Linked DNA regions of Homo sapiens: regions 2, 3, 4, 5 and 6 are each linked to region 1. Evidence: fine-mapped expression QTL. A gene starts in region 1. Each other region holds a variant in brackets. All regions are shown on one strand. Distances are from middle to middle.

What was found. PIP is the estimated chance that this variant, and not a neighbour inherited with it, causes the effect. A credible set is the group of variants that fine-mapping cannot tell apart.
Region 2: its variant is the best candidate, but not a certain one, in a credible set for the expression of BCL2L11 in pancreas (GTEx, PIP 0.64).
Region 3: its variant is the best candidate, but not a certain one, in a credible set for the expression of BCL2L11 in whole blood (TOPMed, PIP 0.76).
Region 4: its variant is the best candidate, but not a certain one, in a credible set for the expression of BCL2L11 in whole blood (TOPMed, PIP 0.50).
Region 5: its variant is the best candidate, but not a certain one, in a credible set for the expression of BCL2L11 in whole blood (INTERVAL, PIP 0.51).
Region 6: its variant is the best candidate, but not a certain one, in a credible set for the expression of BCL2L11 in whole blood (TOPMed, PIP 0.81).

Annotation. Positions count from the first base shown.
Region 1 is chr2:111,118,259-111,123,344 of GRCh38, forward strand. BCL2L11 (BCL2 like 11) reads left to right here and starts at 2,656. Exons shown (of 4, transcript NM_138621.5): 1 at 2,656-2,930. ACOXL (acyl-CoA oxidase like) reads left to right here. Exons shown (of 18, transcript NM_001142807.4): 18 at 1-290. RefSeq lists enhancers at 1,861-1,940, 3,091-3,210 and silencers at 2,221-2,760, 3,094-3,388, 4,181-4,740.
Region 2 is chr2:111,173,756-111,178,841 of GRCh38, forward strand. No RefSeq gene overlaps it. Among named protein-coding and RNA genes, the nearest start is that of BCL2L11, 55 kb to the left of the region's middle. The variant T/G (reference allele first, on the strand shown) is at 2,775.
Region 3 is chr2:111,377,944-111,383,029 of GRCh38, forward strand. The region is part of intron 1 of MIR4435-2HG (MIR4435-2 host gene); the gene reads right to left. Among named protein-coding and RNA genes, the nearest start is that of MIR4435-2, 59 kb to the left of the region's middle. The variant CA/C (reference allele first, on the strand shown) is at 2,633.
Region 4 is chr2:111,140,389-111,145,388 of GRCh38, forward strand. All of the region lies in intron 2 of BCL2L11 (BCL2 like 11), which reads left to right. Among named protein-coding and RNA genes, the nearest start is that of BCL2L11, 22 kb to the left of the region's middle. The variant T/C (reference allele first, on the strand shown) is at 2,595.
Region 5 is chr2:111,163,159-111,168,244 of GRCh38, forward strand. It overlaps BCL2L11 (BCL2 like 11), which reads left to right. Exons shown (of 4, transcript NM_138621.5): 4 at 975-5,086. The coding sequence ends at 1,073. Among named protein-coding and RNA genes, the nearest start is that of BCL2L11, 45 kb to the left of the region's middle. RefSeq lists enhancers at 2,639-3,139, 4,454-4,513. The variant G/GT (reference allele first, on the strand shown) is at 2,351.
Region 6 is chr2:111,406,723-111,411,808 of GRCh38, forward strand. The region is part of intron 1 of MIR4435-2HG (MIR4435-2 host gene); the gene reads right to left. Among named protein-coding and RNA genes, the nearest start is that of SOCAR, 82 kb to the right of the region's middle. The variant G/A (reference allele first, on the strand shown) is at 2,088.

The DNA.
Region 1 (5,086 bases):
AAAGCTCCACTCTTTCCGCGAGCGGGAAAAAAGGTTTGGTTCAGCAAGTGATGCTATTTCAGTGAATCAGACGCTCTGGGGCTCTGCAAGGAAACGCACGGACTGGGAGAAGGAAGTGGGAGCCTAGAGTTTTGCTCTCGGCAAAACAAGAACTCGGCTTGTCCTCCCAGGCCGGCGGTTTCCGTACGGCAAGACAAGGCGCGGAAAACATTTTTACCATCTGACGCTGTAGTCTGTCCTTTAGAAGAGAATAGGTGAAAAGTTTAATAAAGAAATTAAGCGATGTGGAAGTCGTTCCCGCTGCTTGCAGAGGGTGGGGAGGCGGGCCTGGGCAATTTCGGAACTAGGAGAGACCACGTCGGCAAAGCCTGTGGTCCCGAACAAGGGCCATGGATTTCCCATTTCTCAGATCCCGGCTGCCCGACTTCATTCTTGTTTCTTTCAGCACAAGCCATCCTCCCTTCTCCCTCCCTCCACGTCTCTTGGCAGAGACAGAAAGGGACACCGCTCTGCCCGCGTCCAGCGCGAAGGAGGTGACCTAAAACCCATGGGCCCTTCTCACACTGCGTTCTCTGCGCTCCGGCCCAGTTCCGGGAGGACCTCCCGACGGCGCGGGAGAAGGCTGTAAGGGCTCTTGGCCCCCGACGCGGCCTGGGTCTCGGGGGACGCATGAACCCGCCACCTCTGGCCGGCTTCCTTTTAGTGCCCCAAATAGCAGCGCTTAGCCCGTTGCTTCCCCCGACTCTTGTTTTTCAAAGTGTTCACAGGGTCGCGAGAGCGAGCGACGCGGGGGCGGCGAGGCTGCAAGGCTGCACAGGAACAGACGACAAGAAATAGGGCTTTCTTCTGCGTGGTTCTTTTCCGGTCCCTGTCTGAGTCGCCCGACCCCGCGGGGAGCGCGGAGCATTGCGGCGTGCGGCGGGCTTCGGGCTCTCAGCCCGCGCAGCAAGTTGTGTTGCTTTTCCCCGGGTGCGACGCGGGACGGCCGCGAAGAGCAAAGTTCGTCCGCGGTAGGAACTTCGAGGCCCGGTTAGGACCGATCTCCGGCCTCCGAGTCTACTTAGCCGTGTCCACGCTCGTGCCTTTTCCCTCTTGCAGCGAAATAACTGGGCGGGGCCCGACGCGCGTCCTCCAGCGACTCCGGGAACCCAAGGCCTCCTTCACCTCGCTCAAAATTCACCCGAAAATGCGCTGAGACTTTGGCATGGGGCTGCGCTGTGTCCCACTGACGTTACAGAAGCGCTTATGAATTTAAAAACTGCTCCAGGCGGCCGGACGGCGGGACAACGCCTCCTCACTTGCTCCTCTACGGCAAGGCCCCTTCCTTCTCCCTGCCGGCTGCGGTGGTGTGTAGGGTGGTCCCTTTACAGAGTTTCCTTAATCCATCTAGCCTGACCTCACCTGCGGGATGTTCCATTTCCCGATCCACCTCCCACACCCCCGCTGCAGTTGTCTAGAAGCTGGGGCTGGGGAACTGAGGCGCGGGAGGAGCAGACAGGAGGGCCGGGGTTGGGGCGCCAGCCACGCGTTGGGAGAGCAGACCCGGGTGCAGACTCAGAGGACTGGAGAGGCGGCATGGAGTTTGGTCTCCTGGGAGGTAGAGTGAGGTGCTGCGGACTCCAGGGAGGAAAGGGATGGGTGGGGAGGCGGGAGGGGAGGAGGGACGGGGTATTTTGCGCTCCCGCACCGCGGCCCGAACTCAGCTGTTCTGCCTTCACTGGCCTCAGCCAGTCGAGGGAGCTCCTACGAGGTTATCTGCGAGCCCAGCAAATCTTGGGGGTCCTAGCCAAATGCAGTGCGCAACGTTCTCTCTCACTTGGAGGCCGCCATTCACCTCGTTTTTTTTTTTCCTAAAAGGATTTTTTTTTCTGAGTGCTTTTTTCATTTCCCTATTTTACCTGCTTTGCACATGCCTCCCGCCCTCACCCGGGAGGCGGCGAAGACGCCCACTGGGACCGCGCCTGGCCGTTTTCTGGGCGCGTCCTGCCCCCACGGCCTCTGTCTCTTAGGGCGACTGGGCGCGGAAGAAAAGCTGGAGAGCCCCTGCGGGGTGGCAGGAGGAGGGTGCCTGAGTCCCGCGAGAGGCCCGGGCGAGGAAGATGCGCAGCCTGCTGATCCGCGTCCCGCCCGGCGCCAGGGACCCTCAGAGGGAGGAGAGCTCAAAGACCTCGCCCCGCGCCTTCGCGAGGACCAACCCAGTCCCCGCGCCTGCCCCAGAGCGGCTTAGAAACTCAGGGCACAGTGAGAGCGCAGGGCGCCTCCCGAGGCTTCACACCGCCGGCCGGGCCAGCGGAGGCTGTGACCGGAGCGCCCCCTCTGTGCCGCGCACGCCGCGGCCGCCGCCGGGTTGGGGTAGGTGAGCGGGAGGCTAGGGTACACTTCGGGGTGGGGGATGGGCGCGCACATGGCCGCCAGCAGGCAGAGTTACTCCGGTAAACACGCCAGGGACGGCGGCGCGCGCGGGAGGCAACCCAGCGGGGCAACCCCCGCCTTTACCTGTCCGAGCCTGCACGCGCCGGCGGCCGCGGCGCCGAGGGGGGCGGAGCTTGCCAGCCCGCGCGCCGGGGCGGGACCTAGCGGGGGCGGGGTCCGCAGTGATTGGGCGTAGGAGCGGGGCCGCCAGCCAGAGCTGGGCTGCAGGGCCGCGCAGGTTTCACTTCGCTCCGCGCAGCCGCCTGGTCTGCAGTTTGTTGGAGCTCTGCGTCCAGCGCCGCTGCCGCTGCCGCCGCCGCCGCCGCCGCCGCCGCCGCCGCCGCCGCCGCCACTACCACCACTTGATTCTTGCAGCCACCCTGCGAACCCTGCCACACTGCGATCGCATCATCGCGGTATTCGGTTCGCTGCGTTCCCGCCGCCACCGCCTCGGCGCCCTTTCTTGGCCCTTGTTCCCCCAAATGTCTGACTCTGACTCTCGGACTGAGAAACGCAAGGTAAATACCTCCAAATCCCGGGGCGCGGGCCTGGCACCGAAGGAAGACTAGCGCTGGAGCCCGAACGGCACCACCTACTGCCCGCTTCCCGTGCACGTGCGAGCGGAGACGCTTGCATCGGCGCCGCTTGTCGCCGGCGGGAGGTGGGGATCCGTGTGGATCGGGTTCCCTCTCGGGCAGGTTCTCTTTAAAGAAAAGTCGTTCACGCGGAACCTGCAGGCTCTTGGCCGAAGTGCGGCTTGGGACGGGATGCTGCGCGCGGGCCTGGTGAAGGGTCGTAGGTCCGGGCAGGAGGAGAGGCAGCGCGTGCCTTTCGGCGCCGGCCCGGGAGCTGAGGACCTGCTCGTAGTATCGGGCTGTGCGCCCAGCTGGAAAGTCTCGCCGCCGGCTCCGGCGCCCTCAGAGTAGCGGCCGCGCAGTGTGAGGGTGTTTCGTGTCTTGGTTTTTTGGGGCGCGTGGGCCTGTTGCGGAGGATTTGCGGAACTGCGGTGGTGATTTAACTGACGAGACACGGCTTTTCCTTTTACTCATTCAGGCCAAGGTTTCGGGGCCACTGCTGCGTTCGCTTTCTCAAGCGTACCTGGGGCCCCTGCTTGCTCTGCAGGAGTCCTGCGGCCTGTGCCATCCGCACGATTCCCTGGCAGCGAGAAATCTAGGTCCTCCCCTGACCACCTGGACCGCGCAGGGGACTAGTCGCGGCCGGCAGAACCTGCTCGGTCCCTGGGCCGGGCTATCTTAGCGGCTCACGCATGCCCGAGCACACCCGACCCGGTTCGCGGTGCAGGCTGGCGGCGCCGTGCCCTCTGGGACCTGTTGCCCCAGGGTTGGCGCTGCTGGTGGAGGGCCCGACGGACGCCAGGGCGGAGGGTGTGAATTTACTCGATGGTCGCGGACGTGCGCGTCCGCGGCCAGGGGTGGCTCTTCGGCTTTGACTCGTGTCTGCGGCGCACCAGGAGAGAGAGGAAGTTGTTGGAGGAGAATAGTTGCCACAGCCAGGGCGGTGACGGCCGTTAGGGTCTGCCCCCGACGGGCCAAAACAAGGACAAGTGGCGAGGACTGGGCCTGGGGATGGCCCTGCGGGTCCGGGCGCGGCGCAAGTCCTGCTTTGTCTCCAGGTGACTGGCTGTCCAGGACGGCGGGAGCTGCTAAGGCTTGTGTCCGGAAGGAGCACAGGGATGGGCAGGGTGGCCGGGCCAGCCGGCCCTCAAATCCTCCGACGAAGCGGCAGCCGCCACGACCACGGCCAGAGCAGCGCTCGGAGGCGAGTTTGTCAACAATCGCCTCGCCTTTGGCGGCCTGACCCGTAGGCGCCGCCCCCACCGCGGCTGCCGATTGGCTGCGGCGCGGAGCGACCGCGCGCGGACCAATTGGGAACGCGGGCACCCGGCGCCAGCGGCGCGGGGAGGTCGGCGGTGCCGGCGGCGGCGGGCGCAGAGCGCGAGGGGAGGAGCGGGAGGAGGCGGAGGATGTTCCCGGCGGCTGCGGCCGGGGCAGCGCGGGCCAGAGGCGCGGCGTGCGGAGCCCTCGGCTGCCCGGCGGAGCGCGGCGGCGGGCTGGCGGGAAGGCGCGGGCTTTGCGCTGCGCCGGGGACTCTGAACCCGAGTCCCGGGCTTTGTCTCCTGCGCTGCTTTCGTGGTGACGGTCAGGGGGCGCCCGGTCGGCGAAGGGCGCGGGCCGGACGCCGCGGGGCTTGGTCCCTGGCCCGGACGCTGCGCTCTGAAGGGAAGGCGCGGACGTGAGTTTCGGTGTGATTGCCTTCTGAGGGGAGGGTCTGTGGGATGAAGGCGGCGCGGCGCGCACCGGTGTCGCCTAGCCTGCGGACCTAGTTGTAGACCTTGCAGGCGTTCGCTTCGTCGCCCTCCGCCGCCCCCTCCCCATTTAGAGATGTGCACCTCACGGTGTGCACCTCAGAGAAGTTCTGTCTGATTCGGTGCGGCGTGCGGTACGGGAGCGGGAGGGAGGGAGCACGGGCGGAGAGAGCGCCAGAGCCGGGCCGAGCCGCGCTGGAGTTACAAACTCTATTGTGACGCACTTACTACGACTGACGGCCGCTGCCAGACCTTCCCCAGACTTGCTGCCCTCAGCATTTTCGGCAAACAATGGGGCCGGAGCAGGGAACGCGGCCAGCCGCCTGCAATCGCTGCATCTGCGCCCGC
Region 2 (5,086 bases), 55 kb after region 1:
ACTGGACTCCACAGGGACTCAGGCAGGCCATCATCCCCAGCAGCTGCTGTTTGCTTTTGAAGAGCTGGAGCTCCTCCGATTTTCTTTTTTCCTTTATAAAAAAAGTATTGAGGTACAAGTACACACAGGGAAGCACACAGCTTGCACAGCCAACTTTACACATTTCTACAGCCAAGGATTGATTTGCCTCCCCAGTGAAGATGCAGAACCTTCCCAATTTTAAGTGAGAGCACCTCGGTGCTGCCTGCCCAGGCTCGCCCCTGACCTCCTGGCTCACCCTTGCTCTGGGGGCCTGAGCCTGGAACCCCTTCGGGGACAGACTGGGGATCCAGGCCTCTAACCTCATCCTGGGTAGGTCCCCCAAGGGTGCTCAGAGGTCCCTCAAGGCCCTTCTAACAGGAAAGGGGGCTATCTCCGCTCATGGAGTAGGTTCCGATGAGTCTCTAACTCAGTCAGAAACTCTTCCCAGTGTTACTCGACCATGACCTTCAGGCCAATATGTGTCACTTATTTCTGCCAAGACGCCTGCTACAAAAATCCTTGACTGTAGAAGATCTGGTATATTTTCTTAAAAAGTAAATCAATTCTATTACTTTGAATTCTGGACCCTTGAAAGGGGAAAGTGGTGAGTCAAAGCTTCCTCAGGCATTGGATGACACTTTGAAAGGCTTTCTGAGGGGAAAAAAAATTGCATTTTGTCTTCAATCAGTGCCTATAGAATCTCTTTCTCATTTAAGTGTTGGTGAAAGGATTCTATTGTCTCTAACCCAAATAGTCTAAAAGACTTGCATTCATTCATGTATTTACTCGCTCAGCAAAGGTTCGTTGAGCCTCTATTATGTATCAGGCACAATTCATTCTACATGCTTGGGAATTAGCAAGGACAACCCCCTGCGCTCATGGAGCTGATGTTCAGTGGAGGTGGGAGGCATAAGATAACACGTAGGGGAACCAGTGACCAAGACAGTGAAAGGTGCAGGAAATAAACAAGGCAGAGTGTAGTGGACCAGGTGCGGTGGTGGGACCAGAGAAAGGAAGGCCTCTCCTCTGAGACCTCAGGGTGATCAGGAGCAACCAGAGAAGAGCGGTCCAGACAGAGCCACTAGAGATGTGAAGCCCAGCACAGCAAATGGGGAGGAAGGGGCTGCATCGGGGACATGCGAGGGAGGGAGCCATGGATGGGGGAGATGGGCTTGAGAATTAGGCCAGGCTGCAGGGTGAGGGGGCATGCCCGAGACAGGGCTGGCCCTACATTCCCAGGACAGTGGAGGGCTCTTGTCACAGGAGTAACATAATCTGATAGAAACTCCAGATTACAGGAGACCAAGGGGACATGGTGACTGAATGCAATATACTATCTGGAATTTTCCATTGCTATAAAAGACATGATTGGGGCAGGTGGTCAAATCTGAAGAAAATATGTAGATGTTAATATTGCATCCATGTTAATTTCCTGATTTTGATCGCTGAACTCTGGTTAGGTAAGAGGATGTCCTCATTTTTAGGAGATACACACTGAAGTATTTAGGGGCAAGGGGCAACAGGTAATTTACTCTCAATGTTCAGGAGAAAAATGTGATGTGCTTACATGCATGTGGGGCAGGATGGAATGGTGGCAGTTGGAAGGGAGAAGGATAAAGCAAAATGTGGCAAAATGGTAACATCTGGGTACTCTGGGTAAAGGCTATAAGAAAAGTGTCTCTACTATTTTGCAAACTTTTTGTGTGTCTGAAATTATTTCAAATAAAAAGTTAAAAAATTAAGAGCTGTGCCTGGATTGTGGCTGTGCCTGGATTGTGGCTGTGCCTGGATTTTGGTCAGGAGTAGAAGTCAGGAGTCCACCCCGGGAGACCTGGGATGTGGACAGAGGGCAGACAGGCTTTGGAGGAAGAGGAGGGAGGACTTCCTGATGTGGAAGGTGAGGGAACAGAAGGAATCAAGGATTCTAAAGGATGATTTGGGTCAGAGCAATTAGCGGGGATGGCGCTTCCTGAGAATAGAAGCAGGAGTGGGAAGTGAGATCGGTTGGGGAGGGGCTGGGGTGGAGGAAGAGTGAATGGAGAGTTCTGTTTTGCTGGACCACGAACTCAACTCAGGGGTTATCTAGAAACAAAGGGCTGTCAATTCATTTTAAAGGGCTTTTTTTTAAGTTGAGTTTCTGGAAAGAAACTCCAGGAAGGTGGACTGTACCCACTGGCTGCTTAGAGAAAGCCTGGAGCATGAATATTTAGACATTTGCTTTAATGAAGCACTCTCATAAGCCGGGGAAACAGGGCCTTGAGCATCTGTTCATGAGAGGTGGATGATGGCCCAGTGGCGCCTATGGAGCATCTATGAACACAGGCCAGACAGGGCACAGGAGGGAGGTCCTCAAGCCTAGAGGATGTTAGACTCCCCCAGGGGCTTTTACAAAATACCCATACCAGAGGCCCACCTCTCTGAGTCTGTGGTGGGGGTGCAGTGTCATATTTTTAAAGGGTCCCTAAATGACTCCAGTGTGCAGCTGGGCTTGGGAGCTGCTGAATGACAGCTTGCTCAAAACTGCCAGGGATGACTCCAGCAGTGGTGGGGCAGCCACAGCAGCATCGGGTCCAGCAATGCTCCCCAGGGACAATGCTCTGAAGGACAGCAATCAGCAAGGTGCTTTCTGTCTGTTTAAATTTCTGTTGTAGTTGCAAAATGATCAATTCTCTTTTCTGTTTCCCTTTGCCAGTTTGCCCTGGCACAGGCATCCATGCCTCCAGCCAAATTCAAGGTGAGTGGAGGACAGAGTG[T/G]GCTGTAGGGCCCAAGGCCAAGGCCAAGGCCACGGCAGGGTGGAGGTGAGGTGGCCCCGGGTTGTGAGCCTGGGGAGAGCCCAGTCATCATCAGGTGAGTCAGAGCCTTCAACTGACAAACCCAAAGAACTCAGCGAGCTCAGAGACGGGAGGCGGAGCCATAGTGTGGACCCCAGAAGGGCTAGAGGTAGAACCGAATCTGTGTGTGGCACAGGCAGTGAACGTGGGTGGATCATGCTGTGCTTGAGCCTGGCCTTCCATAGCTCAGGAGAGTGTAGAGTGTGAGGGGAATCTCATAATCATGGGAAAAGTGTCATCATCGTCCCCTGAAAAACAAGGACAGGAGGACACACAGGGGCAGGCTCTGAGAGAGCACATTCAGGTGTGAGCACTTAGAAGGGAAAATGATGATTTGTGTTGGGGAACAGACCACAATGCACATTGCACCCGGTTAGACACCAAGCTCTTCCAGGGGAACTTCTACTTCTGATTGCTCAATACTATGCAGAAATGGCCTCCGTGGGAGCCTCCACAGGCACACCCTTGCCCGCTCCAAGTCCCTCCCAGGACCAGACTCTCTGTCCCTGCCCCAGCCAGCAAGGCTCAGAACAGTGGCTGCTCCCAGGTAACTCCCAGCCTGATTCCGGGTCCAGTCACCAAGCTCTGGGGATGGCCTTCTGATGGCTTATAGGTAAATGCTCTCATCCCTGCTGGAAGATCCTAATAACATTTTAAATTGTGTCTCTCTGTCTGTGGGGCTGCTAGCATTAGCCAGTGTGCCTCTGACTCAGCGGGATCTCGCCGTACCTGGCACCTAGTAGGCACTCAACACACCGTTGTTGGATGGGTGTGTGGCAACTAAATGTCTGACGAGGACTCAGGTAAATCATCTTCTATGAAAGCCCAGTCTTTTCTTGGCCTCTTGACCTTCATCATATGTATGTACTGTTTGCACTTTCTTTTTTTTCTTTTTTCTTTTTTTTTTGAGACAGAGTCTTGCTCTGTCACCCAGGCTGGAGTGCAGTGGTGCGATCTCGGCTCACTGCAATCTCCACTTCTCAGGTTCAAGCAATTCTCCTGCCTCAGCCTCCTGAGTAGCTAGGATTACAGGCGTGCGCCAGCACACCTGACTAATTTTTGTATTTTTAGTAGAGACTGGGTTTCATCATGTTGGTCAGGCTTGAACTCCTGACCTCATGATCTGCCCACCTTGGCCTCCCAAAGTGCTGGGATTACAGATGTGAACCACCGCGCCTGGCCTGTTTGCCACTTTCAAAAGAGTAGTGAGAACATGGAGCCTATTCAAATGACAGAACTTTTTTAAACAGCAGGTCCAGCCAGCCCTTTGGCAAAACGGCTCTCCCTTTTAGACGCCCCTTTTTGCCTCCTGGTAGCCCCCTCCTCCTTCCTCATCTCACCTGTTTGGGCCCTGGGGCCACTATTTCTCCTCTCCTTTTTAAAAGCTGCTGTCCAGGGCCATAGCGCTGCCAGGATTCTGATAAATAAGTTCACCTGAAGAAAATGACTGATCATGTCTTGATGAACTCACTGTCACTGGCTGCTCTGGGTGGCATGTGCATTTCGGACAATTTAGTTGCTTCTAAACTTGGTGGCTGGTATAAAACAGAAGTCTTCATGAGTCATAAAAAAAGGACACGTTGGAGAAATAAATGTCAATATTATGGGCTCTTTTATGGAGTATGCCCTATGCCGTTGCTTAGAACAACCCAAGCTCACTCCCGCCTAAGGCTGCAGCTGCCCGCTTTTTCTAAATCGCTCTTCTCTCTATAGCTACAGGGCTGGCCTCTTCAGCAGTCAGGGCTGCTTGAATGTTACTTTCCAGTGGCACCTTCCCTGGTCACCCACTCATTCCCACCTTCAGTCTTACTATCTGGGCAGCAGGCTTTGCGAACACTCTGGGAGCGCCAGCTTTAATGTGTGCTAGAACCTAGGATTACTAGACCTGGGAGTGGCTGTGGAATGATAGGGAAGGACTCAGGTCCTAATCTCTGGGGGCCTGGACTATGTGCTCCATGAGAACAAGGGCTGTGTGAATGCCATCCTCGCATCCCTAGCACTGACACATAGTAGGTGCTCAGGGAATGTCTGTGGGATGATGTAGCTCTTGCTTCTGGAAGAATGTGGCTACCCTACAAGCCTGGACAAGGTAAAGAAGTACTAAGTTGGGTGGGAATGAGAGAAGCTTCCCATCTCCCTCCAGACCCCTGATAGCATCCCTCTGTGGGACCCCGTCATATATGGCCTTTCACAGTACACCAATGGGCAGCACCCAGATGGAGGCTGCTCAAAAC
Region 3 (5,086 bases), 260 kb after region 1:
ACAATCCCTCATGCCACCTTCGTGTGTGGGTCTTTCAAAAGACATTCTATCTTATTATCCCATTTGATCTTCACCTGACCCTAGATGGGTCGGGCAGGGCAGAGCATCACCCTCGTTTTACTGTGGAGGAAGTGGAGGCCCAGCAAAGCCACTCTTGCCTGAGTGGGAACAGCTGGTTCAAAGATAGCCCTTTGCCCAGCCCTCTGGGAAGATAACACCTCCGGGCCAGTCTCTGTGGTGCAGGCAGTAGTTTGTACATTTGAGTGTGCACCCAAATCAAGGGGGCCATCCTCGGCCTGGTATAGCCTGCTCCCCTCAGGTTGGGCCTGGGACTTCTGTGTGGGCCCCGGCCCCCAGCACCAAGGTGGGCATCCAGTGATCTTAGTTCACACTGGGCTTTTCCATGGACACAAGCTTAGTCTGCATTGGCAAAGTGGGGACAATAGCTCAGCATGTGTCTAGGGCTGCCTCAAACAGTGACGGACCCAGAGGATTTCATCTCCTTTCCCTGCATGATTTGATGGGCTCTCTAACTTGAACTCCCTGTGTAGAAAGAATGTGGTTATGGGCTGAGTTGCGTCTCCTCCCCCACATTCATGTGTTTAAGTCTGAACCTTCAGTTCCTCAGGATGTGACCTTATCTGGAACTAGTACCATTGCCGGTATAATTAGTTAAGATGAGATTATACTAGAGTAGGGTGGGCCCCTAATCCAACATGACTGGTGTCCTTATAAAAGGGGGAAATTCAGACACACACACAGACAGGGAGAATGCCCTGTGAAGATGCAGAGACAGGTTGGGGTGGTGCTTCTGCCAGCCAAGGAACACCAGCGGCTGCCAGCAAACACCAGAAGCACGAATGATTCTCCCTCATGGCACCCGGAAGAAACCTACGCTGCCCAAGCTGACCTTGAACTTTCATCCTCCAGAACTTCCAGGCAATCAATTTCAGTTGTTAAGATCCTCAGATTGTGGAGCTTTGTTATGGCCTTCCTGGAAGATGAACCCAGATGCTAAAAAGGCTGAGGAGTGGAAAACTGATGTCTGTGGTTAGTTTACCTTGAAAACCAACCATGAGGCCCCTTCCAGCTCTGTTCTACAGACATCGATTCTGCTTTATTGTTTTTACCAAGAGTAGTACTCCACAATTGTAAACACAGTCCACAAGTTTTCTACTCCAGACCATCTCTTTAGCAGAGAGAAGGAAATATCTGTCTTCCTTCTCCAAATCCTAACCCTACTTTGTTCTCAATAGAAATTATATTGTGTCTAAGTCTCCCAAAATGTCTCAAAAGCAAGACAAACACCCACTTCCTCTTTTGGAAACTGATGGGACCCTCTACAAATTACATGTGGAGACATCACTCTTTCCCAACCAACATAGAAACTCAAACTCTTGTCAACTTTCCTAGTATCCCAACTTGCTTTCAAGAGAAAACTAAAAACTCATTCACATGAATAAAGTATAAATGACAGTCAAGAGCTTAAAGTGTTAGCTGTCCTAGGTGGGGAATAAGCTCACAAGGAACATCGGTAAAGAGGAACATGTCAGGAGTGGGAGCCCACTTTGCCTTATACCCTGACCAGGTATGTAGTCCTCAATGTAAAACTCTCCCACTGGGTGGGAATTCCTCCCACCCCAACAACGCCAGCCTCCCTGTGGCTTTGCATCAGGCTCCATCTCCTCATCGCAGCGTGGAACTCTATTCCTGTCTCTCCAATGTCCTCACACCCCAGTGACTCCAACGTCCTCTAGGACTAGGGAAGTCTGCACGGAACCTACCAAAATCCCTGGCACTCTGACAGCCCCTTCTAGTGACAGGAGCTTAAAGTGTAGCTTAAAGAAGCAGCTTTGGACCTGGTAGTACCTAGGGCTAAATTCTGCAGTACTCAGGTGGACCATAAAATAAGGCCATATTATTAGACTTGATGTGTGAATGCCACTCTCCTTTTCTTTGATTGTCCTGTTCCTGAAATCTACCTGCTCTAGAATTGCCTCCCAGATAATGTCTCTTCTAGCCTTGCTCTTCCCCCAGAGTTTCCTATTGTTTATACAAGTCCTGGGTTATTGTTCCTCCACCCAGCATTACTTAATACATCAATTAATTAGACTATAGGCTTTCCAGAGAGAGAATCGTACTTTTATCCATTTCCCCTTCCCAGATTTTGGTGACTTACATGTAGAAGTTACTCAATAAATATCTGTTGAAGGTTAATTCAACCTGAATTTCTTGTGTTCGTCTACTCTTGTTACCTGTTTTGGTCCCCAAATCCTTCCCACTTCAGACATTCGGTCAGCCCATCAACAGAGGTTGTCTCCTAACATAGACCAAATCTATAAGGAGCTGATTTCCTATTAATTCAGTGACAAGATGTCACAGATCTTCAGAGTTGGAAGATTCTTTAGAAAGTATTTCATCCATTTCTTTAATAAGAGGCCATGTTACTCATCCAAGGCCACACAGCTGGGGAAGCAGCAGCAGGGCCTGGCAGGAAGATGTTCTGGTGGAAGTGAGGCCATTCATCATGTCCAAGAAGCTGTCATCTGGGTGGCCAGCGTTGGGTGAGAGGCCAACTCATACACTTGTTGGAAGGTTCCCTCTATTGGACCCTGGGCATTTCTATTTAACC[CA/C]AACACGCCTCTGCATAAGTCCAGGTATCTCCATCAGATCTTCTCCGCAGGTTATCCTCATAGGCAACTGGACGAGGGGCCCATCCCCAATACAACCAGGCTGCACAGACTCCTGCTCCCACCGCTGGGTAGCAGAGACACAGCCTCCTGCCCTATCTCACAAATCCATGGATGTGACCCATGGGAGTGACTTCCATTTAAAGTTTTGGGCAAATCTCGGAGATTGCTGTTTTCAACCACTGGGGAAGCTTAAAGCCAAACAGTCCTACTGGCATAGAAGTAAGCCTCATTTGTTTTCTATCTGAACACATGTTTTACATCAAGAGAAGGGCTGTGGTTGGGGTAGGGAGAGCTGAAGGGAGATTCAAAGGTTCTTCAGCTCTCACAGATCTCAACCTCTTCAAAGTTTCAACCCTCAGAGCACTTAAGATGTTTCATCCCACTCAGCAGAAGTGCCTCTGCCCACACTCTCGTGTGCCACAGTGCGTGCGTGGGAACTCAGCTGTGGTCCAGAGCCAGTAAAGGAAACGGGACAGTCACCTCACTGTACTTTTCCTAGAGGATGTAATTTCTCCTTTGGGATTTGATAAGCTTCCTAAGGCACATTCACATGCACAGGGCAGATGAGACCTGCTTGTTAGTGAGGTCACATCAAGCCTCACATGGTGATGTGTATGAATGAACTCATACTTAAAGGAATGGGCAACTCCTACCTGGGACCTTGAGCAGGTGGGTATGGGTCAGAGCCCAGAGTCAGGGTGGATAGGCAATGGGAAAGAGAGAAAAGGTTTGCTTTTAGTGGTAACCACTCTCTAGCCTCAGCATTCTCAACTGCAGACTGGAGATAATAATAATGTCCTTCTGTGATATTTGGGGGGTTGACCAAATAAGATTTCTTGTAAAAGTGCTGTGCACAGGGCAGATGAGCATCAATTCTGTGACCAGGAAGGGATTCCAGTGCCATTGCCAGCTCCTGGTTGCGTTCTTTTGAGATGATGTATTTTTTTTCAAGGGAAAGGAGCAACAAGAGGGTACCTGCAGTCTGTAGGACAATACAAGTCAAATTCTGGAGTAAAATTGTAGCACTTACACTGTGTGCTGAGTCATTTGTGATCAGAGGGAAACTGAAAAGTGGCATAACAGGGTGACGGACAGGCCCAGGAGAATTCACTATGAGTCTTGGGAGTGCTGCTAGCACCTCTGCTACCTCCTAGGTGGGTCATTTCACCTCCCTGGCCCAACTGTGAATTCAAGAATACCACATCCAGCACTGCACTGTGGCAAGGGCTCCTGCAGAATAATGCAAGGGAAGAGAGCTGGAAACGACAACGTACTGGTCACATGTGTGATGCCATTTGATGTGGTTTGGCTCTGTGTCCCCCCTCAAATCTCATGTTGAATTACAATTCCCAGTGTTGGAGGAGGGGCCTAGTGGGAGGTAAGTGAATCACGGGTGTGGACTTCCGCCTTGCTGTGCTCTTGATAGAGTTCACGAGATCTGGCTGTTTGAAAGTGTGTAGCACTTCCCCCTTATCTCTCTCTCTCTCCGGCGTGAAGATGTGTTAGCTTCCCCTTCGTCTTCCGCCATGATTGCAAGTTTCCTGAGACCTCCCAGCCATGCATCCTGTAAAGCCTGTGGAACTGCAAGTCAATTAAACCTCTTTCCTTCATAAATTACCCAGTTGCAGGTAGTTCTTTATCACAGTGTGAGAATGGACTACACATTATTGTTATTGTTAAAGGAAAAGAGGAGGGGGCAGGAGGAAGAGGAGGAAGGAAAAGGGAGAAATGAGGAAAGAGAGGGAAAGGAGAAAGAGGGAGGAGAAAGGGGATTGCCTTCCTTTTTAAAAAAATAAACTTTTTATTTTAGAATAGTTTTAAATTTCCAGAAAAGTTGAGAATAGTCCAGAGAGTTTCCCTAGATATCACACCCAGTTTCTCTCATTGTTACTATCTTACATTAATGAGGTACCTTTGTCACAATTAATGGCCAATGTTGATGCATATTAACTAAAGTCACCCTTCATTCAGATATCCTTAGTTGACCCAGCTGTCCTTCTTCCACCATAGAACATCATGTTACACTGAGTTGTCCCATCTCCTTAGGCTTCTCTTGGCTGTGACAATTTCTTAGACTTTCCTTGTTTTTGATGACCTTGACAGTTTTGAGGAACACTAGTCAGGTATTTCGTAGAATGTCCCAACATTGGGATTTGCCTGGTGTTTTCTCCTATGATTATTGGGAGAAGACCACAGAAGTAAAGTGCTACTTTCATCACATTCTATCAGGAGCACATCCTATCAACATGACGTCACTCGTGATGTTGACCATGATCATCTGGCTGAGGCAGTGTTTGTTGTACGTCTCCACTGTGAAGTTTCTCCCCTGCCCCCTTTCCACACTGTACACTTTGAAAGGAAGTCACTGTGTGCAGCCCATATTTAAGGAGGGG
Region 4 (5,000 bases), 22 kb after region 1:
TAACATGCTTCCCATTCCAGTTCCTAAAACATTTTACTATTAGCAGTTTATAGAAGACTTACGGAGTGGTTTGATACTTTTTTCAAAGAAGGCAGCTTAAGTGGATGGAATCTGATTTTCTCTTAGGCACGTGCATCTGCGAAGGTGTCTGAGGTGAGCCAAGCTCGATAACCTGATTTGTTGAGTGAGTTACTTTTCTGTGGGATGTGTGGTGGAGAAAAGACTAGAAGTGTATTTTCTTGTTGATTTGTCTGTTATTTGGTCCCTTGAGAAAGGCATTAACCTGAAGTAGTCTATAGTGAATTCTGAATAGATACAATGTTAGTATATATGTGAGTTTACACCTCATTTTTGCTGATACTTGATCATAAATTCTACTAAATTAGTCAAAACAACAACTTAAGAAAAAGTTTGATACATAGCAGGAGTGCAATATTTGTTGATTTAAAGAGACTCTCATTAGCGTTTAATGCAATATACGAGTGCCACCAGTTCCTTCTCTTTTCACTTGGATTTCACCAGGGTGCTCATTTGAAGCTTAGAACTCTGTCCTCGGCAAAGAAAGCCTGGCATACACTGTACAAGGTGTTGACTCATCTTTGTGTTCCTCTGCTCCTCTAGTGTGAGGTGTGGAGTAGGAGGTTCCAGCAGGTGACCCAGCCCAGCCTTGGTCCTCCCATAGGCCTATTAACAACCCTGGGGCAAATGCCTTAGCCTGCCTGGAAATCTCAGTGTTAGGGCCATGGCCCTTCCGCAGTGGTCATAGCAGTGTAGGGAGTTGGTGCCTATGGGGAACTGGCCTACATTGAGTTAGAACAATCCACACGTATGTTTATTGCGGCATTATTCACAATAGCAAAGACTTGGAACCAACCCAAATGTCCAACAATGATAGACTGGATTAAGAAAATGTGGCACATATACACCATGGAATACTATGCAGCCATAAAAAATGATGAGTTCATGTCCTTTGTAGGGACATGGATGAAATTGGAAATCATCATTCTCAGTAAACTATTGCAAGAACAAAAAACCAAACACTGCATATTCTCACTCATAGGTGGGAATTGAACAATGAGATCACATGGACACAGGAAGGGGAATATCACACTCTGGGGACTGTTGTGGGGTGGGGGGAGGGGGGAGGGAGAGCATTGGGAGATATACCTAATGCTAGATGACGAGTTAGTGGGTGCAGCACACCAGCATGGCACATGTATACCTATGTAACTAACCTGCACATTGTGCACATGTACCCTAAAACTTAAAGTATATAAAAAATAATAATAATAATAATCCCAATTCTTGTGAGTTTTTTTTTTTTTTTGAGACGGAGTTTCGCTCTTGTCACCCAGGCTGGAGTGCAATGGTGCCATCTGAGCTCACTGCAATCTCCGCCTCCCAGGTTCACGCGATTCTCCTGCCTCAGCCTCCTGAGTAGCTGGGATTACAAGCAGGTGCCACCATGCCTGGTGAATTTTTGTATTTTTTTAGTAGAGACAGGTTTTCACCATGTTGGCCAGGCTGGTCTTGAACTCCTGACCTCAAGTGATGTGCCCACCTCAGCCTCCCAAAGTGCTAGGATTACAGGCGTGAGCCACTGCACCCGACCAGAACAATCCCAATTCTATCTGTATCACACAGTGTGTTTCTCATCTAGGATACAGACTCACTGGGCAGCAGCCGTGTCTGCCCTGGAAAGTGGGGGCATCAGGGAGGAGGAGGAATGTGTGAACCTAAACACATGGAAGACCTTCAAAAGCACCAGAACACAGTCTTTCAGCACAGAATTCTTTACATCCTTAACTTGCACTTGTGCTAATGAAGACTCTACCTCCTGTTCTTTTCCTTCTGTGACAAAACAAGTTATCTGTCTGGGAAGACATGGCACAATTTATTTATACAACATTTTTATGGCTTGCAGATGACTCCGCTGGATCCTCCCTCAGAATTGCCCTTCATAGGGAAGTTCAGTGGCCACTCAAGTGGTTAGCAAAATCAAGGTGAAAAGTTTTTCTTTTTATTCAAAATGGGATAAAAAGAAGCAGCTGCCTTTTGTGACTTTTAAGTGAGAAGCTTTCATTATGTCTTAGCCCTACAGTGTGTTATCAATAATCATATCTGTGTTAAATTGTACTTCACTTTGTATATCACCATTGTAAGTTTTAACCGTATACATTATAGGCTTTTTCCATTTTTATTTTAAAAACTGTTTAAGGTGTAGCTTTTTAAGGATTCTGTTTTTGCTCTTATTTTTTACCTGTGTCTTGGTCTTTCTTATCATGGAGGTGAAAACAGTAATACTGAAGACCTTAATGTGAGTTTAGGAGAAAAGATGTTAATCACCAGTTTCCTGCTACTGGTTTTAAATTTCATAGAGGAAGCCACACTTATTTTGTCATCAGAAATTCTTATATTTTTTGTTTAAATTCTCATCTCCCTCCCCTCTTGCCCAGATCTGGTTTTTTGGCTAGAAACAACTTACAGTAACTTCAAATTAAGCATTTTAATTCTAAGGAATGGTCTTAAGTGAACCAATGTATATAGAGTTTTATCTTTACTTTTAAAAGGTCTCTAAAGCATTTTTCTTCTTA[T/C]GGGGAAATAAATTGGGTAGTTTACCTCGTCAGTAGAAAAAATATAGGGATTTGTGTCTTTGCACTAAAGTAATTTCAGGGTTGGTCTTCTTTTAGCTGTCCTTAGTTTTGGGATTATTTTTGTTTTTCAGAATAAAATGGCACAGGTCAGATACTTTTAATCCCCTGAAAGTAATCTAAAGCTATAGAAATGGAGCTGTGGCTGTCGCAGAGACTTACTAGGATGAAGGTTGGTGTAGAAAAACTAAGGAGTAGTAGCAGTATTCAGTGTCCCGTGTCTTTCCCCAGAAGAACACTGGCAGAACACCAGGGGCAGAACACTGTCACACACTATTCAGAGCAGCGATTTCAGGAGCACACCAAGGCGGGCCAGGTGGTCAAGGGGCTTCCCAGGGGATGTCATACAAGGCACATGGAAAGAACTGGTTTAGGACCAGGTTTGGCACAGGTTCACTGACAAAAAGTGGGGTGATGATTGAGAGGGATCATAGATTTCCTTTATAGTCCCAGGGGCAGAATCAAGATTGAAGTGGGGCTTAGAAGGGAACATTTCAATTCCCTACGAGGAATAGCATCGTAGCACTCAGTGTTCTTCAGCGAGGACAGCAGTGCCTTAGGAAATGTGCATCTGTCCCAGGAAGCGGGCACACAGGCTGGGAGTCTTAGAGGGCTCCTGCTCAGGTCTCCCACATGGTGCAAGATGCTGGGCTTCTGTCGTGACTCAGCTGGGGATGTCCTTGAGTATAGGGATCACAGCTCAGTCTGGGTTTGCTCCTGGCTTGTCCCCAGCTGCTAGTAAATATGTTAATATGTGTGTCGGGGACAGCTCTGGTGACATGGATAATTAGTTTTTCTGATGTTGAATGAGAAATGAGTAAAAAGGCATAACACATTAATCTTAATGTCTTTAGACTTGTATTTTTATTATAAGGGACAGATAATAGTGAATGAGGGAAAAAATCTCATGAACACTAGTTTCCAGACTTCTGTCCAACTTCACAGCCTTGGTTTACTGGCAGTTTCCAAATGGTCAGGCTGGAAATTGATGAAAGCTGTTTCTTTTGACCATGGCTCCATAAAGGCAATGGGCAGTGCACGTTGAAAGAGTAAGTATGAAAACACTGGCCTCATCTCATAAACTTTATTATTGATAGTATTTTATCCTAGCAGCTGTTTTTGAAGCACTGTCTTGAATTCATGTGACTGCCCAGGCTTTTGACACAAATGTGTTCCAGGGAGACAGATTGAGGAATCTTTGAGTACTAATGCTGTCATCGTATTTCTCATAGCTTTTGTTTTCATCCAGTGGCTCAGCGGAATTGATTGGGATTGCCAAAAAATAAAATGATACAAGTGAGAAATAGACCTGGAGGGAGGTGTGTGTGTGTGTTGTTGGTTACTTGCTTATTTTATTTCTGAGAACCGTCAGAGTTGAGGATTTCAAACATGATTCTGATAGCATTTACCGCAAACGCTGATGGCAGTTGCTCTCCTTTGCCTTATAGCTAACTGGGACTAGAAACAGCTCCATCACCCAGGTGAGTTTTATAAGGAAACATAAGGGGGCTGGTCTGTTGCTTCCCTCCTCTTGTAAGCTTTGGATAACTCTGAATTTAGAAAGATATTTCTGAAGATATTTAAAGAAGGAGACTTACAGAGTTGAATAAACATCCTGGAATTTTTCTTTCTCTAAATGAATGTCAGCTTCAGAGAGCCCACCTGCAGACAGAGGCAGTGACTCCCCTAAACATTTTCGGAGTATCTCTTGGAATTGGTTTAAAGCTGGTTTCAGAGTCCACAAAGAAATGGCCCTTTACAGGATCCTTTATTGCTTTTGGTGGTTAAAGCAGAATCTCTCTGGAGAGTAAAGGTAGACAGCCCTGCAATGTCTGAAGGACAGGCCTTCTTTCTCCTCACACCCCTGCAGTCCCTGGCTGTGCCTGGCTGTTTCCCGCAAGTGCCAGACAGAATGTGCACTTTTTGGCTAAGTATGTTCTATTATGTGTGTAAAATCCTCTCTCAGTTCTGAGTTGAATATCGATTCAAAGCTTAATTCACGCTGATGACTTGAAAATCTAATCTTGATTCTACTCGAGTGTTTGTAGATATCTGAACATCTGAAAACAGTACAGAGTGCAGCGTTCCTGTGAATTTTAATTTGGTTTCTGGTACTACACTTGAAATTCCAGTAATGATAAGATGGGAACTAAAACAGCAGCTGCCCCTCGGAAATGAGGGTCGCACCACCTCGTTCCCAGACTGAGGCTGCAGTTGAGAATGCTTGTGTGTGACATGCCCCTGCCACCCAGTACACACACCTGAGTCATTAGATGTCACTTTATGGCATCGTCACAGAGAACAACTGGGTTTTGGAGAGAGAATGTCATGATGTGACTTCATTTCCTT
Region 5 (5,086 bases), 45 kb after region 1:
CTGATGCATGGCAGGTGGTTCCCGCGACGGTGTGTTGGAGGTATCCCCCACCCAATGAGAAGGGGGTTTGTGGAGAGACAGTCATGTAGCCCGGTCTCGTGTGGATTAGTCATTAAGAAATGTCCAGGGCAGATTTCAGACTTGAACAGTGAACCAGGTTGTAGCTCATGGCGTCGAGGTTGAGGTGTTGTGTTGCCGCTGCCTTTGGTGACTGTGAATTTATACCTTGCACATACTCACAAAATGGATTAGAACCTGAAAGTGGGCGCTGTGGAAGACCTGAGGACCCTGAAAGCATTGGATAAGCTGGTGATTTCCTTTTGAACAGTTTCTCAGTTTGTAACAAACATATGCTGGTCACTGACACAGAGACTTTTTTATGTTCTGGATTGCTCTTTCCTTCCCATACCGAGAAGGTGGGAGGATGGGGGTTGACATTGCCTGTGTCTGTGACCATGGGCACCCCTCTGGGTCACGGTGTTTATCATAGCCAAGCAGCCAGAGGCACAATGGCGCATCACTGCGAGACTTTATTTAGCTTCTTAGGGCAGATTACTCCAAATCACTGGTTTTTCAAATAAATTACAGCTACCAGAAATTCACCCCTGGGGGAATCTGCAGCATATTTGAATGTCAGTTAACTTGGGTGGTAAGATAGTTGCTTTACATCCTCTTTGAGTTTTTCAAACATTTTTTTGAGTGCTTTTTTTTTTTTTTTTTTTTTTCCTATTTTAAGGAGTAAATCATTGGTATGCCTGCCCTTTTTGTAGGGATGTCTTCCCCTTTGCAGGGAAATGAAAACAAGTTTTCTTCACAATCTCTGGGAGGCATCGTGCTTTGTGACACAGTGCTCTTGAAGAGGTGCCTTTCATGGTGATTAAGATGGGATTGGTTGTTCACTTAAATATGGGCTCCCACCCCTCCCCACCCCCAAATTAGGGAGAAACTAAGAAGCTTTCCTTTTGTTGTTTCAGGTATTTTTGAATAATTACCAAGCAGCCGAAGACCACCCACGAATGGTTATCTTACGACTGTTACGTTACATTGTCCGCCTGGTGTGGAGAATGCATTGACAGGTTCTTTGCGGAGCCGAGATACCATGCAGACATTTTGCTTGTTCAAACCAACAAGACCCAGCACCGCGGTCTCCTGGTGCCATTATTATGCAGCCAGCGGTTCTCTTGTGGAGGGGGCAGGTGACGTTTCAGAAGACACCGAGCTGGATGGGACTACCTTTCTGTTCATCACCACACAGCAGAATTTCTAATGGAAGTTTGTTGTGAATGTAAAGGAGGGAGCATTCTTTGCTTTTTAATATACAAACCATGGTTTTTTGGAGCAGGATTTTGTGTAAGAATGGTGTTTACATGCAGTGTGTTTTCCCCCTCACCTTCAATAAGGTTTTTCAAAAAGGAAATGGAAACTTTTTAACCAATTTGTGAATAACTTTTGTATTAAAATTTTAAGAACCTACGGCCTATTCTCAGAGGATTATGTAACCCCTGCAGTGGAAACTGAGCCAGCTAACTTAAAAAGCTGCCTTAGTTTATTTTTAGAGATTACAGAATTTTTAAACAGGGAGACGTGTGATATACTCCCTCCCTTCCCTACTATTGCCTCTCTGACCTTTTTAAATTATTTTTAATACCAAAAGAGTTCTTTTGAAATGGAACTGATTAAAAGGGCAGAGGGTCTGTTGCCAGCCTGCATTGATATACCAGTCCCATTTGTAAATATTTACGTACCTTTATAAATTCAGTTGCATCTGTGGCAAAATTTCAGACTATTTTTGCGTCTTTCCTCATCACTTTTTGTGATGCAACTCCAGTCTGGACTCAGATGCATAGATTTGGTCCAGTGTATTTTCATGATAAAGTGAAATTGAGTCAGAACAAGAGTTAATATCTGCCTGTATCTTGCACAGTTCGAGCGATCTGTTATTAACTGGGAAGCATTTGGTGTTGGTTTTCATTCCATTTCGACGAGCATGTTATTGGGAAGTATTCTGAAGAGGCAATAGCAGTAATAACAACAGACTTAAGTGCTACGCCCCTTTGTGCTGCTGGCTTTTCTGGTTGCAGGCTTTCCCATGGTCACAGGATGCACTGTCAGCATCAGGTCCCAGAGGGCCACCGTGTCCATTACAGCAGAGTCCAGCTGCAGCATCCAGCTCACGCCCTCATGGGAATTGGCACAGGCCTGGGGCAGGGCTTCTGATGGCCATTTGCTTGGCCTCCTGCATTTTAGTCCAACTCACAGTCCACTAGCTTCACTCCTTTAAATTCACTTTGAAACAGGCCTCATCCCACTTCCACCAGCACCATAGAAGAATAATTCTGGGCAGAAGTCT[G/GT]TTTTTTTTCATTTTTCCAGGACAGTTGGATATTGTCAGGCCACTTGTGACCCCAGCCATGTAGTGAGGGTGCTCTTTCTCTGTGCCTGCTCCTTATGAGTGCAGTGGAAGGAAGCCACACACTGGTCAGTCATTTCAGAGGCAGCAGATGCCCAGGGAGACCCAAGAAAGAGTCAGGTTAGGGAGCAGTGAAAGTGAGGAGGGAAGACAATTCTGTGAACTCTGTAACTCTTAAAATTTTTGAAAACTCCATCGTTAAACAACTTTTAAAAGAAATAACTAAATTTTCAAATGAGTAAGCAGTGCCACCAACTAGTGTTTTGCCCGATAGAAGAGCCAGCATGTTCACGTTATTTAAATTAGGTGGAAAAATCTAAACATTTTTATCTTCATAATTTAAAAAATATATATGTATATATTGCATATTCACTTTTTCCTTTAGGTAGAGATGATTTCAATCCAAATACTCTTACTTTAAAAAATTTCCTTTCCCCAAGAATCTCCTTGGGACTTTGACTTATTTTTAAAGCTGTGTTGGAGCTCATCTTGTTCCCTGATGTGTCTCGAGCCCATTGGTAGGGTCATACAAAGCCCACGGTTACAAGCAGTGGTAGGATTGCAGCCGTGGGCCTGCTGGACACACACATACACCAAAGATGTATTTGGATCTGGGCACCCCCTCCCAGGATCCCTGTACTCACGTGCCAGTCTCCTGACTAGAGCACTTTACTCTGTTTCCTCAGCCCTGCAGCCCCTGGGAGCACACACTGGGTGCAGCCCTGGGCCAGGCACGGGAGGCCCTGCCCTGTGCTGCCCAGGGGCTGTGTGCACCACATGAGCACATTTCCCTCTGGCCTGGCGGCCTCCAGGCTGGCTGTGGAAACAGTTCCTGAGGAAATTAGAGATTCTATGAATTGTAGGAGTATTAAAGACCAGGCTGTTGGCACCAGAACTTAAAGCGATGACTGGATGTCTCTGTACTGTATGTATCTGGTTATCAAGATGCCTCTGTGCAGAAAGTATGCCTCCCGTGGGTATACGTTTTTACCTTTTTTAAAAAACATTTTTGTAGAAAAAATAATTAAATCCCCTTTTTGGAAACTTACTGCAGGTTTTGTGCCTTGACAACCTCTCCCTATGTGAGGTTTGTAAAAAGTGTCCTGTGACTTAACACAGAAACGCAATAAACACACACAAAATAGTTTCATGAGTGATTCTTCAGATGCCCTTCCCAACTGGTTAGTTGATCAAGAATTTTGGGGGTGGGGGTTGCGGAGAAATCAAGTTTAAAATTCCTTCTGATTAAAAAAATATAGTGGAATACAATTGTCTGCCGTTTCCCCTTCTTAATGTATATATTGTGAGTATTTATTAGATTCGTAGGTCATATTACTTATCAACTGAGCCAAATGTCTGTGTGCAATTGTGTTTCCTTTACCTTGTAAAATTTTGTACAGCATAAATAAGTAAAAAAATCACTGTTTTTCTCAACTTTTTCAAAATCAAGGATTGTAAATATTGTAGATTCTTTTTCTGTGTGATGTGTCCTACTGTTTCATAATGCTGTAACTTGTAGAAATATTGTATATTTATTTTCTGCTTATTTAATGTCTTAATTTCTGAAAAGTATTAACATCCCTGTCTCCCACTCCCCTGCCGTCCCATGAAGTTAACTCCTGAGAGTTGTCGGGGGTGACTGGAGAGCTCATTGCAGACCACGTGGTCCTCCAGGGTGGCTCTCCACCTTCGGGTCCTGGTATTTCCAGTCAAGTGGGTTTCAATTCTTGGGCTTTGCCGCCCTTATGATGAAGTGTGTGTTTGATGCCAGTGAGAAACTCAGTCTGGCAGGCTACAAAATTCTACTCCAAGAAATACCCAGCAACCTTCTGTTTGTTCCAAAGCAACTAGCTTATCATGCAAGCAAATTTTGCTGACTCCAGGCTTTATCTTTAGGAAAACAAAAAAACCAAAGTATTATCAGCAGGTGGGAAAGATTTTTCTATTGAAAATTTATCCCTGACAACTCAGCGTTTAGAAAAGAAATAAAATGTGCCACTTCCAGAGGTGCTGCATTGCAGTTGTTCAGGGCTAGGGCCAGGCAGGACAAGTGAATGGGTGGGACAGGTGGCTCCTGCCTAAGGACCACCTCAGGCCACTAACCCCTTGTGGACAACTGTGAGTAGCTGGGTTTTCCCCCACCTGCTGTGCAACTTCCTGTGCTTTGAGGTTGGACTAACTTGTCTTCAGGAGCTAATTAACTGTACAGCCCTCCCCACGCCCCACCCATACGGTCACTGCATTTGGTCAGCCTGCTTCTTCAGGTCGATGCCCTCCTTCTGATACTCCATCTCCTTCAGGGGAGGTTGGGGCCCCACTGGACTGGGTGTCAAGATGTGAAAGCTTATGGGAGCTTTAAGGAGACTTCATGGTGGTTCCATGCAGGTGGTTCTGCCATCCCTGCTGATTTAGCCTGGTGCCTGTGTGTGTCCACTCACGTACACGTGGGGTGGGGGAAACGTGTCTACAGATGACGCTAAATCAGTTGGGGTCTACTCTAAACAGCATTGTGTGTAAGAAGCATCCTCAAGCTCCCAGTTAAGTAACTTGACTACTTTTATTTGGGAATTTCAGACTATAGAAGCTCTCTTATGTTTTATGTCCAGATTCTGTGACCACTAGTTACTGTATCAGAACTCATCAGGTACCCACTTATAAATAGCACTGATCTGGCTGTAT
Region 6 (5,086 bases), 290 kb after region 1:
TCTCACCTTGAATTGTGATAATCCCCATGTGTCATAGGAGGGACCCAGTGGGAGGTAACTGAATCTTGGGGGCAGGTTTTCACCATGGCATTCTTGTAGTAGTGAATAAGTCTCATGAGATCTGATGGTTTTATGAAGGGGAGTTCCCCTGTACATGCCTCTTGCCTGCTGCCATGTAAGAAGTCCCTTTGCTCTTCCTTCGTCTTCTGCCATGATTGTGAGGCCTCCCCAGCCATGTGGAACTGTGAGTCCAATAAACCCCTATCCTTTATAAATTACCCATTCTCAGGTATGTCTTTATTAGCAGTGTGAAAACAGACTAATACAGGGACCTTAAGTGTAAGACAAGTTTAGACATATACATAAAAAAATTAAAGTTAAATATTTTTGCACTTCTGACATGCAGCTGAGCTACGCTTGTGTTTCTAGAGGATCTAAATGTCAGCGATGGGCTCTGAGAGGAGGTGAAAGGAGGTAAGAGGAGAGACCTGAGTGTCCAGAGACCGCAAGCACTCCACGTCTAGATTTTCAGGTTCCTATTATTATTATTATAATACTTTTAAGTTCTAGGGTACATGTGCACAATTGCACATGTAATAAAAATGCTACAGCAGGTCTCATTGAGCTGTCTTAGCTTAAGGTAAGCAATGCTCCCTTTGTAATTCAAGTTAATCAGTGCAATTTTGCCTCCAGAGAAAGGCTGTTTTCCACACTGACTTAGTATGGGCTCTGAGAAACAATATGTCTGCATTTTCTCAAATATTACAATTTATGGTTAAAATAAAATCTTGTTATTCTCACGAAATCCTGAAGGTCTTTAAGTGTTTTCCTTCCATGTCAGAGTCCAAAATCCTGGAAAGGCCCTGGTCTCTTCTCCAGGAAGGAATGGCAGGAGGAACCTCCCCTTCACCCTCCCCTCACCCTACCCACCCCGCCCCCTTACCATCAAGAATAACCAGTGGATGAGAGGGGCATGCCAGTGACCTTAGATTCAAGATAAAAGCACGTGACATTCTTTCAAAGCCAGATAATTCTATAGACAAGTTGGAGCTTGGGTGAGCAACCATCCTAGTTTCCCCAGGGCTATTTGGGTGTTAACACTGAAAGTCCCACATCTCCGGAAATGTCTCAGACCCAGCAAGCAAACCAGGAATGGTTCTCCTGCCAGTAGGTCAGGACTTGTGGGTCAGAGGTCCTCCCTGCCCCCAGGGCAGCTGCCTCCTCTCCTGACCGTTGGAAAGGGCTCTGATGCACTGATCTACACCCTGGTTCTCCGGGCTGTGTGTTATCTCTGACGGCAGCCCCTGTGCCGCCAGCCTACCACCGCCACACCGTGTTAAATTTCAACCACAATCTGCTGCCTTGGCTCTTCTTGGTATCTCTAGCCCAACGACAGCAGGCTACTTCCCAAGAACACCGAGAGTTTAGAAAGTTTTTTGTTTTTTTGTTTTAACATCTTTGAGTGATCTGTAAATTTACTAACCTATCAATTCTGATGATGGAGTCTCTTTTCTTTGTTGTTGCTGTTGTCTAAATTAGAGCTATATAATTCCAAAATGCTTGAACATGATATGGCACCAACATTCACTTCACTACCCCAAGCTTTTACCCTCAAGTAAAAGATGAATTCAGGAACATGAGTTTTTTTGTTTAGTTTCTGGTCAGTGGGCATCCTGGTGGGGTAAAACATAGTAACAAGAAAAGGAAGAACATGTAGATGGTCATTGCTTTTCAGGTGCATTGCAGAGGCTTCTCTCTGAAGGGTGACTACAGTTCTATACGGCCATGTCAGTCCACCGGCATTCATTCATTCATTTATTCATTCATTCATTCAACACATATACATTGCTTGGCAAAGTGCTTCTGAGATGCAACCAAAATAAAAACCCTGCCAGGATTCATTATGGCTGTGGTCTCCCTGTACTAAACCTCACATCCATTTTTGTATTTGATGTGTCCTGCAAACTGCTGTGTAAATGGGAGTTTTATGAGCAAATAGAAGGACCTGGCAATAATGCTGCCGTCTTAAGGAATAGAAGAGCCTGTTGTTGCACAATAGAGAGCCAGGAACAGAAATCGGTGAAATC[G/A]GCTCCAACACTGCCCCTCCCCCAATACACCCCAGGCACACTTCTGCTTGACAGATGCCAAGGCCTTGATGCCAGGACTGGGTTTCCAAGGCACCAACCCATTTGTAAGGTGGCACTACAAGGATTCCTCAAGTTCTGAATTAATTCCACATAGCAGACAATCCTGCATCACAGATTTGGAGTGCAAGCAACAGAATTTGCATCTGTGAACTCCAGCAGAGGGCCTAGGTGCTAACAGTTCTGGCAGTTCTCTGAGCCATGCAAAAGACTGGGTCATCGAGTTTGGGAATGAGATTGCTAGGGGCCTGAGAATAGGAATGGCAAAATGTGGTCAGAGTTCATTGCTGAGGTGAACAAGTAAGCTCCCAAGTCTCAGAGAGCAGCATCCCAGCCACAGACCGTGCTGGCATGTACCAAGAAAGGAGAAGAAGCACTGGTCCTCTTGCTCCTGCGTAGGCTGGCATGTGGATCCACCCCTTCTCAAGGTATCACACAAGTGCAGGGGCCAGAGGAAACCAGGGGCTGCAGAGGTAAGGGTCAATGTGGGGTGGCCCCAAAAACAGCTCTCCTGACAAAGTTTTGTGGCTTTTTTTGTTGCTAGGCTGCTTCAAGTATCACTCAGGGATGTAGAAGACTGTCTCATAGGTCTTAACTATAACTATCTGAGTCTGAATAATGGCTCCCAAAGACATCCACAAATCCCTGGAACCTGAGAATGTTACCTTACACGGCAAAAGGGACTTTGCAGATGTGATTAAGTTGAAGATCTTGAGATAGAGAGGTAGTCCTGGATTATCTGAGTGGGCCCTTAACGTAACCACTGGGGTCCTTATATGAAGGAGGCAAGAAGGTTAAAGAAGGGATAGCCATGTGACGATGGGGCAGACACTGGAGTGATGGACTTTAAGTGGAGGAAGGGTCCACAAGCCAAGGAACGTTGGCCATGTCTAAAAGCCGGAACAGACAAGGAAGCTGATCTCCCCAAAGCCCTGCCGAAACCTTGACTTTAGCCCATTGAAACAGATTTCAGGCTTCTGGCCTTTGGGAACTGTGAGAGAATACATTTGTGTTTTGTGTTAAGCTACCAAGGATGTTAGAGCAGCCATGGGAAAGGGGTGCTGTTTGCATGAGAAAAGCAGGAAGACAGAGAGAGGAACTGTGTCAGCCTCCTGGTCTGTGGGGAGCCACATCCCAGGAACCCCAACCTCTGCCTTTTGCTGGGAAACATTCTCCCAGTCTCCCAGTCTGAAACACCTCCCTCAAATCCCAAAAAGACAATGGTGGGAATCCTCCAAGGTCCAGCAGAGCCTTGGGACAAGATGCAATCTTTCGCTAGCCCCAAGTGGGTGGGTTCACCCACCCTCAGCTCCAGCAGGTAGGCCCTTCTGAATCTCAGGCTGGCTGAATAGGTTCCAGACGCAGGAGGGAGCCCCCCCACCCCCTCTGGCAGCTGGAGTGTGTGCTGGAGATCTGGGCATGGGCTTGCCCAGGCAAAGAGTGGAGAAGCTTTTATAGGAAAGCTGTAAAAGCAAGCAGGGTTGACCTGGGCACTCCCCCAGTTCCCATGAGTCTGGGGCCCACGACTGGCTCATCGATTGCTTGAACAAGCACACATCAGAGACATCCAGATCAGAATGGAAGCTGCTCAAGGCTCAGATGATCCCTGAGCCACCAACGTTATCCTGGAGGTTCTTATCACAGAGTATGGGAAATGCCATACTGGGCTGTGGGTTTGCAGAAATCCTCCAAAAGATGCAGAAACAAGTCCAGCTGAAAATGGAATGCTTCCTGATGGCTCATTTTGTTCCAGCCTCAACCCAAAGGTATCTATCACAATATTTCTTGTACAATGGGTTGTGCAGCGGGGGGAAGGGAGATGCTTTACAGGCATAGTGTGGGGTGAGGTACATTTCGTAACAGCTCTTGTTTACTGAGATGGCTTTCTACTGACAAAGAAAAAAGTCCCGAAAAGAAGGGGGCCTGTTAATTGTTTGCTTCCTTTTGCTTTTTTGGTTACAACAGTAAAAACTGTCCTTCAAATTTAGTCCCAGAAGACATCAGAGTTTGACAATGACAAGTGGGGAATAGAAGTTCCTGGGCTATCAGCTTCGCGGCTCCCTCCTCTACATGTGGGCTCGGGGACACAGAGCTGGTCCCTGCCCAGTCTCGGAGGCCAGAGAATCAAGTTCTGGGTGTGTGAGACTGATGGGACAGGCTTCCTCTGACCGAGTTGGGCAACTTGGGGCTTTTAACTGCCTTGGGAATGAGGGTGGGTGCCTTAAATGAGGAACTAAGACAGGCCCTCATTTCCCAGCAGGGATGCCGCTCAGCCTGCAGAGTTCCCCGTTCCCAAGGCTTGTGAAGCAGGAGACAAAAGAGGGGCCTTCCTCAGGACACTGTTGTGGGGTGGGGTGCTCACTCGCTCTCCTGTGCCCATGTACTCCTCTCCCCCTCTACTTCCCTCTCTTTGGGAATCCCTATGGGGCAAGTACAGGGAGATGGGAAGAAGTGGGTGGGATGGATCTGGGCTAATGACGAGGGCAGCCTCTTCCCCCCTCGGGTCTCCCTCCACCCTCTTCAGTCCCTAGTACCTGCTGGGACCTGCCTCCTTAATAGGTAACCCCTACAGCTCTCCTCGGCCAGTCTCTGCACACTGCGCCCATGGGTTCCCGATGCCACTGCCCTCAGAACATGCAGTCAGAGGCTCTGGGGAGCTAGAGGTTCAGGTGGGTGTAGAGAACACCACACATATCCTCCCAGGGCAGCCAGGACATCCCACGGGGAGGCAAAGAGGGTCCTGTCCTGGGCTTCCTCCACACTCAGACCACTTCCTCACCTGCCCACCAAGCAGCAGTGTGCATGGTTAATGGAAATTGGCATCTCTTCTATCCATGTGAGGAACCACCAAGACCTACTAGCTAGGTTTACGATCCAGGTTCTAGATACCAGGGGTTAGGAGGGAAGGACCCCCAAGACCTACTAGCTAGGTCTACAATCCA